Regions from separate parts of the Homo sapiens genome. Here region 1 is linked to region 2. A link means that fine-mapping ties the variant in region 2 to the expression of a gene that starts in the linked region. Tissue or cell type: whole blood. Region 2 holds a variant in brackets; the other region holds the start of a gene. All regions are shown on one strand. Distances are from middle to middle.

Evidence for each region. PIP is the estimated chance that this variant, and not a neighbour inherited with it, causes the effect.
Region 1: MDFIC starts here. The variant in region 2 is fine-mapped to the expression of MDFIC in whole blood (TOPMed, PIP 0.98).

The regions. Positions count from the first base shown.
Region 1 is chr7:114,917,234-114,925,395 of GRCh38, forward strand. It overlaps MDFIC (MyoD family inhibitor domain containing), which reads left to right and starts at 4,861. Exons shown (of 5, transcript NM_001166345.3): 1 at 4,861-5,403; 2 at 5,694-5,894. The coding sequence starts at 5,801. RefSeq lists silencers at 4,801-4,940, 5,271-5,320, 5,331-5,510, 5,741-5,880.
Region 2 is chr7:114,977,460-114,985,459 of GRCh38, forward strand. It overlaps MDFIC (MyoD family inhibitor domain containing), which reads left to right. Exons shown (of 5, transcript NM_001166345.3): 4 at 2,047-2,322. Among named protein-coding and RNA genes, the nearest start is that of MDFIC, 59 kb to the left of the region's middle. The variant G/A (reference allele first, on the strand shown) is at 3,946.

The DNA.
Region 1 (8,162 bases), 60 kb before region 2:
ATGTTTGAAAGAGTTTTTCCTGGAATGTAAAAAGATTGACCCGACCCCCTAAAAACAGAATATAGCACTCACATAACTAACTGACTCTTTCCTTAATGACTCAGGCTCATTAGGAACATTGACTATTTCACGAAGCTGAATTCACAAAGGCGTTGTTACAACATGTTTATTTTCCTGTATCTTCCTTGTCTGTCAGCTGTCATCTCTCCTGCTGTCAGTTTTTCTGACCTAATAGCTCCCTTAGCTAATCCCTTCTCCTCAATCTTCCTGCGCCCTAAGTTTTCTTCTTCTAAAACAATGTGAGCTGAAACAGTAGAAAATAAAGTTTGATTAGAGGTGTGTATTCACAAAAGAACAAGTAGGATTTGAGAAGGATTATGTCTTTTGTGTTGGCAGTTTCTGAACATCATGAAGGTTATTTTAGGTATTTAGTATGTTGCTGTTATTTCCTGGTTTCTAGGTCATTGGGTTTGGGGATTGCCAAAGTGCTGCTTCTAACATAAATTAGGTAAATATATTTTCCAGAAAAACTATCCTTGATATAATCTGGGAATGACTCCTTAAAGGATTCAAAGCATTTAAAAAGTTTTTTTTCTAAACAAAGAAACAAAGTATTTGAATGTGAACCTTTAATGTATGTTTACTTATAAATCATACCCAAGTACTTTTGTAAGAATGTGCAATACACTGTATAAAAACATACTCAAAAGTAGAAATTAAAAATTATAACATAAAAACATATATAAATGCTCACTCTGATATTTTCTGCCCACATTTCAGTAGATTGTCTTATGCATCCCTTGGAATGCCCTTACAATTACACACCCCAGTTGTAGACCTCTGGTTTAGATATCTGTGTATGGGGATTAATTTTGACTTTACTAGGCAAATAAGCCTCTGCCCAAGTGAAAACTAATTTAGCTGCTTTTCAAGACATCAAATCAAATTTCTTTATCTCCAGAGCCTAATATGTGGCCTAGCATATAGTAGATGCACAATAAATGTTTGATGAATGTTTAATGAATGAATGATGAAGATTAAGTAGTCCATAAGGATGCTTTATAAACTCTTTTAATTAGTTCTTTATTTTATTTGCTTAGCTCATGTCAGACCTCTTTCACAATGTGTTCACATATTATTATATCATCATTAGTGTACACATCACTAGGCAGGAATGGTTGTAAGGCACACAAGAATTTCAAAGGCAAGGGGCTTTGATCCGGGGCTAGGACATTGAGTTCCACCGGCAGGCTGATACCCCTAAAGAATTTCCACCTACGCAGATTAAGATAGCTTAAGACATGGCAAAATCTAGCTTAATAAAGACAACCCAGGGGGATCTGGGGTAGCAAGTGGGACACTGACAGTAGTAGTACTTAAACAGTAGTGGTTCTCCAAGCCAAGCTGATAATGGTATTATGTCACTGGGAAGGATGTGGAGAAAAGGAGAGAGGCCAGTAAGGATACACGTGGATTGAGTTCCAAGGCACAGCTGCGTCTCAGGGCTTCTGCTTTTACTCTGCACACTTGCCTTGGACATTCTTATAACCTGCTAGTCAGCAAAGTACCATGTATATGCTTATAATCCAGTCCCATGTCCAGCAGCCTATGCAGGACAGTTCCAATTAGCTGTCTCACACATGCTGCATCATTTGCATGATTAGCTCAGCAGCTTTCCCCAAAACTGGCCTCTCCTGAATGTTTTCATCTCTGTAGGTCATACCACCACCATCAACCTGGATGCAGAAAGCTGGTAGTTGCTCTCGATTCCTCTAGCTTCCTCATCCTTTATCCCTATCTACTTGGCTCCATTCCTTCTGCCAGCCATCAGCCCTGGCCTCCAAATTGGACTCCCTAGATCCACTCTCAGTCCTCCAAACAATTTTACGCATAATACCAGAGTGGCTTTTATAAACAGTAATTTAGAAAATATGTCTCCCCCTGCTATAGTCTGAATGTTTGTAGTCCCCCAACATTCATATGTTGAATCTTAATCACCAAGGTGATGGTATTAAAAGGTGGAGCCTTGGGAAACACTTGTATGTCTTTTTTTTTTTTTTTTTTTTTTTAAGAGACAGGGTCTTGCTCTGTTGCCGAAGCTGGAGTGCAGTGGCCCACATAGCTCACAGTAACCTCCAACTCTTGGGATTAAGTGATCCTCCCGCTTCAGCCTCTAGAGTGGCTGGCTACAGGAGTATGCCACTATGCCCTGCTAATTTTTTAAAAACAATTTTGTAGAGATGGGGTCTTTCTATGTTGCCCAGGCTGGTCCTAGAGTGCTGGCCTCAAAAGATCTCCCTGCCTCAGTGTGAGCCACCACACCTGGCCTCTTGTGTCTTTTTGTAAGGACATTAATTCCATTCATGAGGGCTCCACTCTTATGACCTAACTACCTCCCAAAGGCCCCACTTACTAACACCATGACATTAGGGGCTAAGATTTTAGCATATGAATTTTGGGGAAACACAAACTTTCAGTTCGTGACACTGAGTGAAAGAATGAGAGATGAACGTACTGGAGTGCTTGTCAGTAAACAAATGAAGCAATCAGAACAAGCAAGTGCAGCCAGGGATGTGGGAAATGGGAGGCGTGAGGGACACTCAGGAGCCCACACTTAACTTCTGGCATATCAGACACCAGGTTAATGGCATTAAGACCACTTCTAGGTCCTCCAGAAGGAAGACCTGAGTTACCTAGGGATGCAGGATAGCCTGGAAGAGAGACAGACCTGAGTTCTAATCCTGAAGGTACAATCCTGGCAATTTACTTATAGGGCCGATGGAAGAATTCATTGAGATCATTTGCGTCAGGTGCATGGCATGACAAACTGGTATTTTGATATGACCCTTTTGATACAGTCATTATGCCATGCTCAGCTTTACCCATCAAGATGCTTCCGTGTATAATAGTAATAATAGTTGATACTTTTGAACACCTTTTCCCTTGAGAGTCTTCCAAATTTTATAGGAAAACTACCTTACTTAGTGCTCAAAAAGAAACTCTATGAAGAATTTCATTCTCATATTATGAGGCAACCAAGGTATAGAGTGGGTGACTAACTGTCCAAAGTCACACAGCTGAATGAGGTACAGTATTTGACAACCTTGGTGATGCTACCCTACAGCTTCTCATTTGCTCCTAATGTTATTTTAATTTTATGTCTTCTCCATTAAAGATTTTAAAATTTAATTTAAGGAATATCTATGGAATCACCCACCACGTGTGCAATATTAAGGACTGTGTGAAATTAAATGAACAAATACTTATCATTGATTATGACTTTCTAGAAGAAAGCTGTAACTTCTTTATATTATTGGACTTTAACATCTTTGTGAGAGAATTTTAAAAATAGGGCAAGGAATGATACAGGGATAAAACAGAATTTTCCAGAGCAGGTAAACAACTCCTTTGAGTGCAGATGATGCTGCAGTGAACTCTGAGACGTCCTAAATGTTTGTTCTCTAGTGGTGATGAAGTCATCTTCAGAACTGATCTGCTTCCATCAGACAAATTCCAAACAGTCCAGGCTCCTAGATAAGTTTTCAAGAGAGGTAATGCACTTGATTTCATACCATTTCTGAAATCTCCAAGTGAAAAAAAAATGTTAGTTATGTGTAATGGGGCAAAATGTCATTTGTCTTTTTGGGGAGAATGGTCTGAATGACTGTCATCAGCAACTTTGAAGGCTGTTTTTTTTTTTTTTTTTTTTTTTTTAAATGGAGTCTTGCTCTTGTCGCCCAGGCTGGAGTGCAATGGCACAATTTCTTCTCACTGCAACCTTTGCCTCCTGTGTTCAAGCGATTCTCCTGCTTCAGCCTCCCAGTAGCTAGAATTACTGGCGCCCGCCACAATGCTCAGCTAATATTTGTATTTTTAGTAGAGATTGGGTTTCACCATGTTGGCCAGGCTGGTCTCGAACTCTTGACCTCAGGTGATCCACCTGCCTCGGCCTCCCAAAGTGCTGGGATTACAGGCGTGAGCCACCGCTCCCGGCCGAAGGCTGGCTTTTTTACCATCATTGAAATCAAGTTAGAATGCACTGTCTCTTCATAGGTAACAAGTAAATCTTTGTAATCAATTGGAATAAATTCCAATGAGCTTTTTGAAAAAATGAAATTTCTGGGATATTATTAATGATGCACATAGAAAGACAGTGAATCCAATGCACATTTTCTTCAGTTTTGATAACGTTACTGTGATTCCTCGCTTGTCCAAAAGAATCGAAGAATGAGTTCGTTCTAGCTTTCTACAAATGAATTCTGCATTTCATTCACAATGAAATAAAAGAGCAAAAGTTATCTGAGTATACCACTAAAGTACTATATATCTGTAAATTACTTTACACTTGCTATCCTCGGCTCATCAGATTAAGCTACAATCAGAATGTCTCATTTATAAACGGAAAGTTGATCAGCTTTTTACTTCCGACCACAAGTTTATCTCCCCTCAGATACCACTGATCCAGTGAGGCATTTAGCTTGCCATAGGCCAGGCTGGGGCCAGTACCACGGCATCCGCAAGGGTGCCAACCTTGTTTGCCTGGATGCCTCCAGCAGATTCGCGCAAACTGCAACTGGTTTTACATCAGGAATACTGTTTGACCAAAGAGTAATTTAGGAGCCAGAGATGAAGTGAGTAAACGTTCAACCGAGGGGTCAAGGTTTCAAACGCACACGTTCTCTATCCCACCAGGAAAGTTCGATACTGTAACAGTGTTTTCGTTTTTCCTTGTCCACCCTAAAGGTTTTCGTCAGGATATTCCCAAAGCCTCCGTCGGTCTGGGGGCAGGAGTAGGGAGAAGGGATGAGGTGACTTTTTGGGCGGGGTGGGGGGAACGTCTGGGCAGCCAGGGACCTGCCCATTCACTCCCCTTTCCCAGCCCCGGGAGGGCGCAGCGCCCGGGTGGGGAGCCCGAGCCAGCCCAGGCCGGCTCTGGCCTCCTGACCCAGACAGCGCAGGGCGCGAGGGATCGCGCGGCCGAGCCCGGGTCGCGCCGCTCCCAGCATCGGGGCCGCTAGCCAAGAGTTCGAGGCCTTCCCGATCCGGATGTGATGAAAAAGAGCAACAGAGGGAGAAGTGTTTCAGGATTGTAGGAGTGGAAGAGGGGAAAGAGAGGCAGAGAGGGGGAAGGCCCCCTCGCAGGGGAGCCGGCTGGAGTGAGCTGGCTGGAAAGAGGGGGCGGAGTGCGCGGAGTCAGAGCCGCCACCGCTGCCGCAGTTGCCGCCACTGCGGCGTCTGGGCTGAGCCGGAGGGAGGCGGGAGGACGCGCAGGGGCGGCCGCCGCCGTCGTCAGGCCACCGGGGCGAAAATGCGGCCGCTGCCGGAGGCTCGCTAACTTTCCGGGGCGGAAGAGGAGGAGGAGGAGGAGGAAGGGGCTTGGAGCGACTACGGGGGGATGCGGAGGTAGGTAGTGGTCTCCGGGCGGGGAAGAGGAGGGGTTTGATCCCCATCCCCGGGGTTCTCCCAAACCCGATCTCTCTTTCCAGCCCCTCCCCGCTGGGTCCACCTCGGACCCCTGGGACCCCGCCGCTGTCAACTTGCGCTGTAACAGTTTTCTTCGCAAGTTTCAAATCAAAACTTCCCCGGGGTGGAGTTTGAGGGAGGGAAGTGGAGGGGGAGGGAACGTCCCGCAGGGGTGGTGTGCTCTTCTCTAAAAACATTTTTTTTTTTAATTTTGTATATTTTTCCGCCAGAAGCAGTCAGTTCCCTGCACCCAGCACCTCACAGCCCTTCCTCCGTGCGCCCTGCCGGGCGGCGAGCTAGGCGGCAGCGGCGCGGCGCGGGCTCGGCGGAGCGGCCCATGTCCGGCGCGGGCGAAGCCCTCGCTCCCGGGCCCGTGGGGCCGCAGCGCGTGGCCGAGGCGGGCGGCGGCCAGCTGGGCTCCACAGCCCAGGGTGAGTGCGCGCTTGCAAGTGGCAAGCTTCTTTGTCATTGTTGCATTTTTCAGTTTGCTCACAAGTGCACAGATAGGGGTGGGGGGAGTGCTGTGAGGAGGGGCTCCCACTCGTAGTTGAGAACTTTTGCACAGTTCGCGTTACTCAGGCAAGTTCTTCAGGATCCTTGCCCTAGATCAACAACCGGGTAAGAGGGCGGGAACCGTTGGTCCCTCCACTCCCCCTTCCTTTGGTTGCGAAGAAACAGGATGACAGGATTGCTTCTTTCTTAAGCATATGCATGTTTGGGCCTAAGACTCAATGTGTAGGTTCTGAAGCGCTTCTCCTCTAGGTCTCTTCAGCAGATCCAGGACTGCCGCAGCTCTCTGAACAAGCGTGCACTTACTCCATTTCATCTTTCTGTTTCTTGTTGGCTCCTCTACCACCCGGTTGATAATTCAGGTTTCTGTGACCAGTAGCTTTGGAATGGCTTATGCTTGTTTTCAATAACTGGTTTGTTTTGAAATAAATAAACAAGGTTTATAAGAAACACTTTCCAAGAATGAATTAGCTTCTTTGTGTTCTTCCAAAGTGTAAACACACACAGCCTATAAAATACTCTTGTGTCTGGGAAACTTCCATAACAAGCTTCTAAACGAGTTGAACCTTTCTTCTCTTGAAGGCAATATACTTTAGGTTTCCATTGGTGACAGAGAGGAAGGTTCTTAAACTTCTAATGCATTTTACTCTAAGGATGGTTTTGAGCTAAAGAATTCTGTCACTGATATATCAGAACTAAGTAATTTTTCCAGTGCTCAAAAACCTAGCATATACCCCTGATTTTAGGCATAAACTGATAGCTTTATTTCCCACTTGTACTAATGTAGTGAATCTTAGGGATTTTTTTTAAGGCAGCAAAAATTGGAGAAGGAGTTAACTTTCAAGCTGCAATAGGTAAAAGCAGAAAACATCTTGGTTAAATTAAAATGTTCTGGCACCCAGGGCTGTTAAACTGAATTACATTTATCATTATTTTTTGCCTCTAAATGAGTGACTCAGCTTTCTAAACAGAAAATAAAAATGATTAACTGCAGAAAATCAGAGAACTAGAATGATAAACATATGTTTTCTGAGAAGCAGCCCGTGTTCTCCACCTTGTATTGTCAGCACAATCATTTTCCTGTCATTAGGCATGCCCTTAGTAGTCATATCGACTCATTGATGGGCTGTTTATGCTCACACTTGAGCTGCTAATCACAATTGTTAAACCAGGCTTATGTCAAAAATCAACATCAAACACCCAAGGAAAATAATTTGACCTGGAAATAGCTAATATCTACAATATCCAACTTTAATAGTTTGCATTTCTAAAATCATCTGGGAGAATGTGCAGTGGTACTTAATGTACCTGTGCATTAGGATGCTGGATGGTGTCATGTGATCTGAACTTAAGAACCCGAAAATCTAGAGTGGCCTGAAGTACATTTGTTGGGTACAACACACGTTATCAGTGTAGAAACTCTTGGGTTATATTTTACCTGAAAATTGCCTTAGCTTTAGCAACATAGTTATACATTTTTATTATTATTAGTTTAACTTTGATCCAAAACTTTCTTTAAATAGGGATCAGTTTAATTTAAATATAAAGTTGATTTTTAAAAAGAGAGTCTGCAGAATCTTGTTAAAATATGATGTCTTAAACAGGCAGATGTCATAAGGTGTATTTAAAGAAAGAAATTCTTGGAGCAAATGGTTAGAGGAAAGCTTCAAGGGAAGCTTGGTTAGGTTGGTTTTATTGATAAAGACATTTGTGAAGAAGCTTTGCTCGAAGGCCACTCTACTCTTAAGCCTTTTCTCAAGTTCTTTTATCCTCTTGCTTCTGTCCTTGGATTCTTTATCATCCTTTCTGAAGAATAGCTTAATAATTCTACGGTAGGATATGGCTGCTTAGTTAACAGAAACCTAATTTTTAAATTCTTTATATTAAAGTCAGTAAGAAAAGTGGAATTTTAAATACAAATTAACAGAAAAAAATATTATTTCAGGAACATGAAGGATATGATCAAGTCTACCCCTGCAAAGTTAAATATATATATATAGGTAAATAATGACATTACAAGCTCTACATTTATTACTATACTATATTGTGATGAGCTATCCATACTGTTAACCAAAGGCATGAAACATTACAGTTGAAAGTAATTTTGGGGATTCTCTAATCTGAACTCCACATCAAGTCTAAAATTCAATTCTACATCCTTTTAGGTGTTTTGTTAAAAACCTGTAGTG
Region 2 (8,000 bases):
AATACCTCTTCACTCCCTGTGTTGAGAGGCTCCACCACCCTGGTGTGGCTAACAGCTTGCATTGATCACTTCCAAATGCAAGCCATACTTCTCTTCTGGCAGAACTTAGGTCACATCCTTGTCCTCTAGCTCCAGAGTAGCCTAGGGATGTCGTAGAGGAATTTACCTAACTCCATGAGTGTGACCAGAATGCTGGACAACACAACACAACAGGTGAATATTCACATTTGTTTTATGATTCATTGTCTAAAAAATCATATTTGTTTGTGCTTATGCTATTAAAACAGTCTCCTCTATTTACACTTTAAATAAAAAGTTTTGTTTTTTATATATAGGCATTTAATACATTTGGAATTTACATGTACTAATTATATTAAGTATACTATACCCAAATATTAATTGTATAAATATTAACATTTATATAATTAATTATATTTTATTTATATATTTTATATATCACATAAATATTATATATGTATTATATAATAATTACATAATCAACATAATTATATTAGATTATATTGATATAACCATTAATATTTATATTAATATTATTATATTAATTGGTATAATAAAATAATTATGCATATTATTTATATTGTACCCAAATATGTAGGTGTGTGCATGTCTACCTTATATTAATATATGAGTCCCATATTTGGGGCTCAATAATTTCATAAGCTTCATTGGCTTGTATGTCTATGCCTGGTCCAATGCTGTACTGCTTTAGGTGCTGTGATAGAAATATCTCATACATCAAATCCTACAACCCTCTTTTTCTTCTAAAAATTTCCTTGGTCTTTCTTGATTACTCTTCCATATACATTTTTGGATCAGCTTGTCAAGTTCCATAAACAAGCCTGTTGGAAATGTTATGGAAATGGCATTAAATAATAAATCGGAGAGAATTAACATAATTAACATATTTATACTCTCTCCACTTATTTGGGTTTTTTCTATGACTTTCAGTAGTGTTTTGTAATTTTTGCCATAAAACCTCTGCCCATTTTTTTCTAGTTTAATTCCAAAATACGTATAGCATCTTTTGTTTGTTTGTTGGCTTGTTCTTTCTTTTTTTGCTATTGTGAAGAGTTATTTTTCTTGTTTATTTGTTAATCGGTTATACTCTTTGCTTACAGGAGCATTGTTGATTTTATATGGTTGTGTATCAATCTTGCTACATTTTTAGACTTTCAGTTTTTATAGTCTTAAACTTAGATTATATATATACTATATATTTGAATGTTCCCCAGAACATCCAAATCTGTGCACATCTCAAAAATTTTGTTCATTCCTGTCTAGAAGTCAGACCTATTAAATTTCTTTGTCTTGTTTATTGCTTGTACTATGATCTCCTGCACAATATTGCATAAGTCACGTAAGGGTGGGCATTTGACATACTTCTAAAGTCCTGACATTTAATTTTGGTAGATATGTTTTATTAAAGAAATTATCTTGTATTCCTAATTTTTCATAACTTGTTTATTTAAAAATCAAATTAAAGAATAAATATAGAAAAGATTTTCTTCTGCAGGATTCACAATGGGATTTTTTTTAAAAACACTGTATTTTTCTTTGTATTGTCTGGCTTTGAATACCAGAACTTATCATTTCTTTCCTTTTATTTGAAAAGACAATTGAGTAGTTTGTTATTAGTAGTAGTATTGAGATAACACTGTTGTGTCTATGCACAAAGAGGGCTCAGCATATAGAAAATAATCAACATTCTCTGAATGAGTCTTAAATTACCTTTTCAGATTTCTAACTTAAATTTTCTTTAAAACCGCCCAAAACAGTATTTCTATGGTCTACTTTTTATATCCTTGTACAAACCCACTTTTGATGACCCCGTTCCCATTTTCCATTTTAGTAAATTATACTTTCTCTATGTCTATGTTAGTATTTTTCTTTCTTTTCTTTGTTGCCTCTTCAGTGTTAGTATTATGGGTAAAACCCCAAATCTCTGTTACTGAATGTATTTTCATTATTTTAAAATATTAATTTCTTTTTCTTTAACTGGCTGACTTTTTCCTGTTTTTAATTTAGCCCAACCTCAGCGCTTGCCTCAGCTTCAGACTTCAGCCCAGGTGCCAAGTGGTGAGGAAATAGGCAAGATAAAGAACGGCCACACAGGTCTGAGCAATGGAAATGGAATTCACCACGGGGCCAAACACGGATCCGCAGATAATCGCAAACTTTCAGCACCTGTTTCTCAAAAAATGCATAGAAAAATTCAGTCCAGCTTGTCTGTAAACAGCGATATCAGTAAGAAGAGCAAAGTAAATGCTGTCTTTTCCCAAAAGACAGGCTCTTCACCTGAAGGTAAGTTTGAGATATATGTAGATTTTATTTGACCAGATGTAAAATAATATTTCCTGGTAATTATTTGATCAAGCATATATAATTGAAGAATCTTGCTTATCCTTCAGACAAACAGGAATTTTGGTAAAATGCAGATTAACTTTCCCAAAGGAAAGCACAAGATAGAAAAGGAAGCAGTGGCAGCTGACATCCTGCTTTTAGATAATCGTCTTCTAGAGTGAATAGTCATTACTTTAAATATAACTGCTATACTTCTTTTTTTAATGCCACATTTAAAAATATAAATACAACATTTTGATGGCATACATGAGTGTGTGTGTGTATTTTTATCCCTCCCTGATGCAATATGTTATTCTATAGTTCAGAGATAAGATTACCTGCTTGTATTTTTGTCTTGCAAATCGGTTCTTAAATAGACAAAGCTAAAATGAGAGAAAGATTAGGTAATTTTCATGCTCTTGCCAGGGAATAGGCCAGGTGATTTCTGTTGCTTGACTGACCAGCATCTTCCAGCCGCCACGTTGGCCAGCACCTGCAACCATCTCCACTCCCATCCCATTTCAGCCTCACTGTGGTCTGGTCTTCACCTCCTCCTTTAGAGACACTTGGCTGTGTTCTCTGTCCCCTGGAGAACTAGTTATTACCTCTTCAGTTCTATCTCATCCTGCCCTTGGCTGGGTTAAAAGCAGGTTAAATACTATGAACCTGAGAAAGTTCTTTATTAATCAAATTGCACATGGTGACAATTAAAACAGACTCCCTTTACATGATTCATTGTATTATATTTCAAAAATAAAAATCTCCCATATTTAAGGATCCAAATTTCTTTCCATGTATCCATGGTTCTCTGGTTTTCCTCCTTTCCCCTTTTAGCAGTTATTGGATGTCTAAAGTCTTGAATCTGTTATATGTATCTGATATACATATATTTCTCCTTATTCCCCTTTCCTTTCTATTTTGCTATGAAATCTTAAGTAAGAGAAATTTTGTGGAATGCCTCTGTGAAGTTGGTCATGCTTATTCATAGAGACAAATTGAGTTGTAAATAGGAAATTGTATTGAGAATTACCAGTAATGAGTGGGAGAAAGGATATTGCATTTTGGCTACAGGTGTCTCAAACTCAACTGAGATAAAGTGTTAGGTTGATCAAATGATATGATAATAAATGGTCTGCATAGTTCCAGGTCAGTGACACTACTTTCCAAACTAATTAGATTGAAAGGGACTTGATTGACACTTTAAAATGAGTTTGACATGTAAGCTGCATGGTCATCTCTGAAGCATAGGTAGGCTGTTAACTAAACTGGCTCTCCAAGGAGTTGGGAAAGCAATGCAATTTTCTTTAGAGGATCTTCGCTTCTAGGTGATCGGGTGAAATAATTGAATGCAATTGAAATGTACTTGTTTTATACATTTGAATTCACTTATTACGTCCCTAACCTCTTATTTTCCATTTGATATTTACTTATTTTTGTATTAAAGAATGGTAACATTCGCATATCAGTCCTAACTTGAAATAGCTTATGGAATGTTTATAAATTTTTTTATTATTGCTTGCCTTTAATACCATGTCTGAATTTATTTGTAATGTAGGAATGCAGCTTCATAAGTAACATACGAAG[G/A]AGGAAGAAAATCACCGGTATATGAATGAGATACAGTTTTACTCTTCCTCTTTCTCTCCCTTCTCCTTTATTCTCCCCCTTCCCTCCCTCTTTTACTTTTTCTTTCTCTTCTCTCATGCTCACATTCACACTTATGGCCTACCACAGAGCTCTGGATAAGGGAAGTCCCTTGTAATCTGTGTAATCTGCTTTTATCACAAAATATGTTCCAGATTGGGTTGGAGACATGAGGAGCATAAAATACAAATTTAAATGTATAAACACATTTTGCAAAGTCTTATCCATATCTTCATTGTAAGACTATAGAATTTAGACAATTGTAGGTTTGTTTTATTGTGATTGCTTGAATCTAGATTAAAATTTGATTGTCCATATTTTTCTCAAAGTTCGATATCTTCATGATTTGTTAGTATTTAAGGTTGTGCCCTAAAATTTTGTGTTTCTTCTGACTTTCAGTTTTGAAGTTATGTTTATTCTCTGGCAATGTACTGTAATAAAAACCAAAACCAAAACAAAACAAAAAATCCGTTGAACTGGTAGATGGCAAATTAAAAGGAAAAACATTCTCAATTCTGCCACCAGCTTGCTGGGGTACTTGAGTTTCTATGGGCCTGCTTTTTCTGTGGAATGAAGGGTTTGGATTAGATAATTTTAAAAATTAAGTTCGGTTCCAAGATTCTGTGAGTCTCTTTTTACAGCACCTGCTTGACTCTCAGGATAGATCTCTTGCTCTATAGAATATGTGATCTCTTGTTGAGGAAACACCTAAAACCTGATGTGCAGAATGGGGCAGGGGCAGAAACAGTTGTGGTGAACAGAAATAGCACCTGAATTTCAGGAGGCCCATATGTCAGAACAGTAGGCCTTGAATAGGCAGCATGATTTATTGTGCAAATAAAAATGGATGGAAATGATTTTTTTATAAAGCAATAAGAATGGGGAGATTTAGTGGCTAGGTGTCTTAGTCTATTTGTGCTGCTATAACAAAATACCTGAGACTAAAGTTTGGTCAGGTTGGCTCATATCTATAATCCCAGCAGTTTGAGAGGGCCACTGGGGAGGATCGCTTGAGACCAGGAGTTCAAGACCAGCCTGGGCTACATAGCAAGATCTCATCTCTACAAAAAAGAAAAAAAAAAATCTACCTGGGCACAGTGGCATGCACCTGTAGTCTTAACTACTCAGGAGGCTGAGGTGGGAGGACCATCTGAGCCCAGGAGTTTGAGGTTACAGTGAGCTATGATTGTGCCACTATATTCCAGCCTGGGTGACAGAGTGAGACCCTGTCTCTAAAATAAATAAATAAATAAAACACCTGAGACTGGGTATTTGATAAAGATCAGAAGTTTATTTTCTCTCAGTTCTGGAGGCTGGGAAGAGCAAGATCAAGGTGCTGGCAGGTTAGGTTGTCTGGAGATGACCATTTTCTGCTTCTAAGATGATGCCTTGTTGCTGCATCCTTGGAAAGGGAGGAGCGTGTGTTCTCACATGGCGGAAAGCAGAAGCGCAAGAGATCAAAAACTGCATGAAGCCTCTTTTGTAATGGCCTTAATCTCATTAATTAGGGAGAAGCCCTCATGGCCAAATCACCTCTTGAAGGACTTACCTCTTAATATCATCACATTGTCCATGACATTTCAACATCTGAGTTTTGTAGAGGTGACATTCAAACCATAGTACAAGGCTTTTCTCAGTTTTATGACTGTTCTGCTTCACATTTTTGTTAAATCATCATCTTCTATGCCTGTTCTTCCAAAGGCAAATGAGCAAACAAGTAGCAAAATAATCTTAACTAAAATTCTCAAAGCAGCTAATCATGCCCACTTTGACAATGTGTTGTATGTCTGGGTACATGGTGCTTGTGGTTGTGATTTTTGTGCCACATATAAATTTTATCAACAACTGGAATAACATTTTTTTTGGTTCAGATAATGGAATAAAATATTTACAAATTTTCTAGTGTTTGATTAAGAACTCTAAGGGCGTCTTTTCTAACCAGGATAGCAAAAACACTGCTAAGACATGATCCATTGCTTATACAGAGGTAGGGTTTGAACCAGCCATAATTGAGTCTGTGGGTTGGCAAGATGTTTTAACATGTCTTTAACTGTGAGTGTCTGAAGAACTGAGAACAAAGAAGCCTGCACTTCATCAGGTACTTTTTTTTTTTTTTTTTTTTTTGAGGTCGTGTCTCACTCTGTTGCCCAGGCTGGAGTGCGATGGTGCGATCTCGGCTCAATGCAACCTCTGCCACCCGAATTCAAGCGATTCGCCTGCCTCAGCCTCCTGAGTAGCTGGAATTACAGGCGCCCACCACCACGCCTGGCTAATTTTTTTTGTATTTTTAGTAGAGATGGGGTTTCACCACGTTGGCCAGGCTGGTCTTGAACTCCTGACCTCAGGTGATCCGCCCACCTCGGCATCCCCATCAGGTACTTTTTAAGCGATGTTGATTCATATAATTAGAGTGCCTTCTATGTGCTACTTGCTTCTCTCACATGAACTCATTTAGTCCTCCCAACAACGCTGCAATTCTATGAATTATATGAAATTATCTAATTATAAATGAGGAAACCGAGACACAGAGAAGTTAAAGGAAGCAACCAAAGGCAACAGGTGCATGGTAAAATTGAGACTCAAACTCAGACATTCTGGTTCCACAATCCATGTTCCTAACCTCTGTGCTATTTTGTGTGACTAAAGTTTTCTGAAAAAAAGGTAATTTATCAGACATTTCAACATGATATAGGATGTTAATGGTGTTACAGCTGTGGGCCAAGCAGGGATCTTCTTCTTAGTATACATTTGCCTCTTAAAGCCCTTCTTACCACAGTTTTAAAAACAACTCTCACACCTGTGCTCTCTGTTTTCCTTTTCCTACTAGACTGTGAATTCCTGAAAAGGCTGGACTGAATCTAAGTCAATTTTTTTTTTATTGTACAGTGGTGCCCAACATAAAAAAGTTTCTCATGAGTTAACACGTGATACAATGCTCTATTCCAAATCATTTTATCCTACCCTTCCTTGAAACCAGCCCTGGAAAATAAAATGTGTGCTCATATTCACCAAAAAAAATGTTCTTTTAAAAAGTTCCATTTTTGCAATGGAGGAAAAAAAAACCATGTGGCAAAAAAATTGCACATTTTATTTAAAGGTTATTAAATTTGTAGATTTCTACTTGTTTTGTATAATTAAATATTTTCATACATACTTTAATTTTCTGATTGCATCACCCAGGTGGAGAGTTTTAAGACTAAATGTTTAAGATTCTTGACCTTTGAAATAATTATAGTATAATTTAGTATCATATAATGTTCAAATTGCCAAGGGTTTTCATTAGACTCAAAGACACTTTTCTTATAGGAATGGTAAATCTTAGTATGTTTTACATGTGCCAGTTACATCTATATATTTTTGTAAAAATTAAGTTCTAACAAAATGCTTTTAAAGAAATTTTATACTTTTTAGGAATTTTTGCATTAATTTACACCCCATACTTGATATTCTGCATTTAGTATGCATAGAGAAATACATATCCAGTCCTAGTATATCATTGAACATAAATGCTGAACAAGACAGTGAAGAGCGTTATGTAGATGGAAGTAACTACAATCATCTCATTTTTATTTTTAATCACATAGAAGCAGTGTGGTATAGTAATTAGAGCACAGACTCTGAAACTAGCCTGGTTGGGATCAAATATTGGCTTTGCTACTCACCAGTGATGTGTCTTTGGGCAGGTTACTTAGCCTCTTTTTGCATCAGCGTCTCATCTCTAAAATGGTGATATTATTAGTACCTACTTCATAGGATTGTTATGAAGAAGACTTGAATTGGTACTGCTTAGTGCTTAGAATACAGACTGGCTCAGATGAAGTGTTCGATATGTGTTAGCTGCTGTTATGATCATTAGTATTAAGGTTCATAGAGGGGTCAGGAATGTTAGCTTCTTGGAAAAGTCAATGCCTGGATGGGGACCTGAAAGACAAGACAAAGATAGTTTAGGGAGTTGAGAATAGAGGGAGGCATTCAAGGCCAAAGGATTTTGTTTTTCT